2 separate regions of the Homo sapiens genome follow, and region 1 is linked to region 2. Evidence: fine-mapped expression QTL. A gene starts in region 2. The other region holds a variant in brackets. All regions are shown on one strand. Distances are from middle to middle.

Region 1 (2,906 bases), 23 kb before region 2:
CAGAGGACATCTCTTAAACCATTTCCTTACGTAGCACACACCAATTCCCCTCTATTCTGCATGGTACATGACACATTTTGGGAAACATGAAATATTAAAGCTGGACTGCGGAGCTCCTCAACCTAATTGTGATGTGATGATTCACGCAGCACAGGGGCCTTGCAGCTGCAGAATCTCCCTTTCTGCAGAACTGTTGCCTCCCTGCTGTAGACCAGTGGTTCGCCACTGGGGGCGATTTTACCCCTCAGGGGACATTTGGCAATGTTTGGAGACATATTTGGTTGTCATAGTTGGTGGGGAGAGTGCTGAGGGCTGTTGTAAACATTCTCCAATGCAAAGGACAGCTCTGCACAAGAGAAAATGATCTGGCCCCAAATGTCAGTAATGCTGAGTTAGAAATCCTGGGCTAGAGCCATAGAATAATGAGCAAATAAAGCACTTAATCCTCTGATGATGGCCTGAAAATTGCTCTGATGGATTTTGCACTCGGTGTAATTTAATATTTTCCATAGACGCGTAAAAGCCTTCCTCAGAGCCTCTCCACTCCTTCTATAGCTTCTGCACAGCCAAAAATTAAAAATGTTACTTAATTGTTTAAAAAAAGAAAACCAATTTGAGTCAGCAAGCATTTAGTTGTCAGACTTCTACCAACCTAACAAGCATATTGATAAAACACTAACACACGTGTTAGTTGCAAAAGATGCAATATTGATTTATTTAAATGTCATCATTGTGGTGCTTTTCAATCTTCCAACTGTGTAATCCTAAAATAAATAAATATATATTTCACACACCACACACACACACACACACGCACACTATTAGCAAGTGACATTGGATAGACAGGTGTCCTCTCTTTCCTCTACCATTTTCCTGAATGCAAAAAGAAGAAACGTGGTGTAAAGGCAATACTCTGAGAGAACCAAGACAAAGCAGGAGCTTTAAAAATCCACCCCCTGGGTCCTCTAATAATCAAAGGTTTACCAGAATATATTTATTTTCAAAAGTGTCTGAATTCTGCCTTACTGCCTATCATACAGGCATGGGCATTTGAAAGAGAGATGGATTTGAATGTTGGGGAATCTGCATGTAGGTGGGTACAATACGGGGTTAGGCTGGGGCACATATTTTCATGGTTCATAAGCAAATTTCCTTGTGGCTCACTCAGATTAAATTCTTTCAAGTCCTTGGCCTGTGAGCTAGTGCTAATTTGCGTGGTATTATTTTTCCACCTGATTTGCAAACCAAGAGAATGATAGCAAATGTTGGCCTCCTTTCCTCCTCAGCATGACCAGTCACCCATGTGGTAGGATAATTTATTGAGATATT[A/C]ATGTGTTTTTTGTTCTTCCGGAATTTTACCCACCCCTGTTCTCAGAAGATAGCTGGGCCTTTGTGTTCCTTGCCTCAGAGTGTTTTTAGGATCCAGGACCAAGGGGAAGTTTAGACAGGTAGCCAGGCTTCTCTCACTCCTTCCTTGGATTTTTAAAAATGTCTAGGCTCGGCCAGGTGCAGTGGCTCATGCCTGTAATCCCAGCACTTTGGGAGGCCGAGGCAGGCGGATCACAAGGTCAAGAGATCGAGACCATCCTGGTGAACATGGTGAAACCCTGTCTCTACTAAAAATACCAAAAAAAAAAAAAAAAAAAAAAAAAAAATTACTGGGCGTGGTGGCAGGTGCCTGTAGTCCCAGCTATTCAGGAGGCTGAGGTAGAAGAATTGTTTGAACCCGGGAGGCAGAGGTTGCAATGAGCAGAGATCGCGCCACTGCACTCCAGCCTGGTGACAGAGCGAGACTCTGTTTCAAAAAAAAAAAAAAAACATGTCTAGGCTCAGTGAAGGCATTTGCTAGGCAGGGGGATTTAACAGAGAATGTGAAAGTGCATAAAGAAGCACAGAATTTTGGGGAAGCATGAAGAGACTCCAAGGTTAGGAAAGGAGAGTTGACTGGGGTCTGTGTCTGGCCTGTTTCTTGGAGGTGATCCAATGTGCTGGGGAACGGTTAGGTGTGTGCAGAGAAAGACTCATTTTAGGCACCAGAAACCGAGTCTCAGCCAATAATCCTGTGCTTGAACTTGATGCAGAACCAACAGTGCCACCCACCTGCACGAGACCAGGTGATGGAACATGGACTATGGGTCCTCCTCAAATGTGCTCCCAGACACCCTAAGGACATTGACCCAACATGAGGGGCTTGGGGTAAGGAGCTCCAGTGATGACTCAGACTAAATTTCTAGCCAACCAAACAGAAAAGAGGGCCTAGAGTCCAAAGTGATTGGACTTTTGAAAAATAAACCAATGCTATGTTACTTTGATTTTTGAGTTTGTAGAGCAAAATCCATCTGAATTCATTTACCTATTGAGTGAGAGTAGGGTAGGTTCTGTTAGAGCAACAGCTTAATCCTGAAATCGGAGTGGCTTTTCAAAACAAGAGCTTATTTCTCACTCATGCTACTTGTCTCGTGAAGGTCAGTAGGGATTCTGCTCCACACACTGACTCAGGGACCCAGCTTGATGAACACACCAAGATCCCAACAAATGGTCTTCACAGTCATCAGGGCAAGAAAAGAGAGGAACTGGAAGATGAAGTGCTGGCTCTTCAATGCTTTGGGAAGCGACGCAGATCACATCAACTGATAACCCATTGTCCAGGACTAGTCACATGACCCCAACTAACTGCTGGGGGCTGGAACACACGGGAGAACAAGTGGACTTTGGTGAGCAGAAAATGCCTCTGCCACAGCCTCTTGGTACTTATTGAACATAGGATGTGTCTTTTGATTTAATACTATTAATAGTTTGCATTTGCATAAATCTCATTATAAAGGCATTTTAGGTTATTTCCATTTATTGTCTTATTCTCCTCTCCTCAAGCTCTTAAAGAAACTAAGGTCCACAAAGTGGAAGTA
Region 2 (2,906 bases):
ATCTCTGAAACTGGGCAGAGGAATAAGGAAAGGGAAAGAACTGGGTTTTGGGGAGAAACATGCTTTCTGGAAGGCGCCCAGGTTTACCCAAAGAGCACAGTTAAGTGCTGAATTTCAACTAGCTCTGGAGTCACCCTGTTTGGGGCCTCATTCTGGAAACCCGAAGTCCAGCGGCAGCTTTCCTCCACATCAGGACAGAGAGTGGGGTTTGGGAGCGGACGAGGGAGCGGGAGTGGACGAGGGAGCAGGAGTGGGGCTCAACGACGACCCAGGCGCTCAAGGGGAAGGGGCTGAGAGCGTTTCTTCGCTGTGCGGCTGCAATAGAAACTTTTTCCTCGTACTATCTGACTCCGGGACTGGACTGTGAGGTCTGCAACAGCTGGTGGGGTTCGGGTGGGGAACACACTCTAAGCCCAGCGCCAGGGCTGGAGCCGTGGGTGGAGCCGCTGCAGCCCTGGGCCGGGGGCGTCAGGAAACTCGAGACTGGGGCGCGGGGAGGCCCCGGCCAGAGCGCCCGCTCTCCCGCGTCCCGGGCGGGGTCCTCACCTGTTCCAGCGGGCCACCTTCCTCCGGTAATACCGCAGCGCCTCCTGGCTGGCCAGGAGCGAGTCCTCGGCTCCCAGGAGAGGCGGCTCCTCCGGGACGTTGTACAGCGGGTGGGCGAAGAGGGCCTGCAACTTGGAGCTCGACCCGCTGTGGCTGCCGCCAGCCGGTTCAGTCCGGGGCTCGGTTCGGGAAAAGTTGTGCACGATCGTGCCGGGGTCCGAGGCAGCTGCGGCCGAGTCCCGCGCCAGGGAGGAGGCGCGGCCGGTGCACGGGCACCCCCGCGGGCGCTCCCGAGGCCGCAGCTGGCGCTGTACTTGGGGCCAGAGGTGGAAGTAGAGGTCGGCGGAGAGCAGCGCGCCCAGCAGCAGCAGAGTCAGTAGGCGGTCCCGGCGCAGCCCCGGCATGGCGTGCTGGCCAAGGGGGACGCCGGGGGCAGGCCGGCTGTCTCCGGGGTCCCGGGAGGGGTCGCGGGGTGCGGGCAGAAGAGGTGCCTGGAGTCCCGCGGGTGGGCCGGGGTCAGTGAGACCGGAATGCTCCCCGCGCGGGCTAGTCCCCTGTGGAGGGGTGTCGCTCCTCAACTTGGGGACCAGGTGCACGGAGCACCGGGGCTCTCGGAGTCAGCGGGCGTCGCTTCTCCGCGCCGAGTGAGCCGAGGGAATGGGGTTCCCGGGGTGCCCGCTTCTTGCGCCTTTTCTCCCGTGCGCCCGCCCGCCCGGACGCTCGCGGCAGGTGAAGGGCCCCGGGGCGCCGGCGCCGGCTGCCACCGCGGGCGGACGGGCGACGGGGCGGGGGGCGACCGCGGAGGGCGGACGGAGGCCGCCGGCTGCAAAGCCCGGGGCGTCTCTCCTGAGGATGCTGTCGCTCGGCGGCGGCTGCTAGTGCTCCCGCGACTCCTCCTGCGGGCGGCGGAGACGCCAGTGCCGGCGGCTGGCACGGGCGGCGCGAGTGGGGAGTTGGCGAAGCAGGAGCGGCTCCGGGGAGCTTGTCTGTGCGCCTGGACTCCTAGAGGCAGAGGTAGCGCGGGGCCTCCCCGAGCCTGGCCTGGCGCCGGCACCCCCACCCACTCTCCGCTGGCACCTGCCTCTGGCGCAGCTGACGGCCAACTCCCGATCCGAAGCCGGCGCTGCCCTTGCACCTTGTCACCCACCCACTGCCTGCGCCCTCCCCCTCGCTCGGGCCTCCCACTTTCCCTGCCCAGGTCTCAATCCAGTCACTTTAAGGGACTCACGCGAGGGGTCCGAAGCCTCTTTTTACCATTTCTATTATTTTTAGGGAAAAAAAAACCACCACAAGCCCCCTAAAACCCTTTTTTTCCTGTAAGCTTTGCCAAATGAGTGTGTGGGGGGGGGTGGGGGGAGGCGGGGGTGGCAGTGTTGGTATCTGTTCTTTCTTTGTGTTCCCTTCCACCTCCGCCCCCCTGCAGAGCGCAGGGCACATCAAGATTCATAACAACTACCTACCACATGCCTGGCACATAGTAGGTGCTCAGGAAACACGCTCTTGGTGAAGGAAAGAGCTTGACCTTTAAAAGTAAGGTATCAGTTTTACCTAGAATCTTGCTGATTTCCTGTTTGGAAGGAGTTTGATTCCAACTCTGCCTGTACTTTAAAAAGAGGAAATGTTTCTTGCACTCAGGGAGGGAGGGGCCCTGATGACCCCACTCCGAACTTTTGAGTTTAGCTTGGTGTGAAAGTAGTCCACCCAAATGAATCACTGGAGGACACATTTAGGCTTTCTCCAATATTCTGTGAGGTAATGTACCCTCCCCACACCCAGTTTTCCTTTTGAAGAAGAGGGAGGGAGTCCTGAACTCCTGGCTCCTCTATTTAATGACCCCATAGTATAGTAAAGTGAAGTCTGATTGGAGAGGCGGCCCCACCCTGCTGAATTTCAGGAAATCCACCAGAAGCTGCTTGCCCAGGCAGCAAAGCTTCCCATGTAAGTTAGTTCTACTCTTTAACCCCCTCCCTTCCCTTGCTGGAATTGAGAACCCTCAGACATACTTTGACTTGTGGGTTCAGACCAGAGTTCTTTTCCCCGTGGTTCAGTGTAAGATTTCTTCGGGACTTTGCAGTCTCCTCAAATGTAAATGAAGATAATGATGGAACCTACCTCCTAAGGTTATTATGAGACTTAAATGAATTGAAGTACAATTATGTGTCACGTCTGAGAAATGCATCCTTAGGCAATTTTCCTGTGTGTGTGAACATCAGGGTGTACTTACACAAACCTAGATGGTTCAGCCTACTACACACGGAGGCTACATGGCATAGCCTGTTGATCCTAGGTACAAACCTGTACAGCATGCGACTACTGAATGCTGTAGGGAGTTGTAACACAGTGGTGAGTACTTGTGTGTC

Evidence for each region. PIP is the estimated chance that this variant, and not a neighbour inherited with it, causes the effect.
Region 1: its variant is fine-mapped to the expression of FAM20A in whole blood (INTERVAL, PIP 0.95).

Annotation. Positions count from the first base shown.
Region 1 is chr17:68,577,212-68,580,117 of GRCh38, forward strand. The region is part of intron 1 of FAM20A (FAM20A golgi associated secretory pathway pseudokinase); the gene reads right to left. Among named protein-coding and RNA genes, the nearest start is that of FAM20A, 23 kb to the right of the region's middle. The variant A/C (reference allele first, on the strand shown) is at 1,330.
Region 2 is chr17:68,599,717-68,602,622 of GRCh38, forward strand. FAM20A (FAM20A golgi associated secretory pathway pseudokinase) reads right to left here and starts at 1,651. Exons shown (of 11, transcript NM_017565.4): 1 at 547-1,651. The coding sequence starts at 950.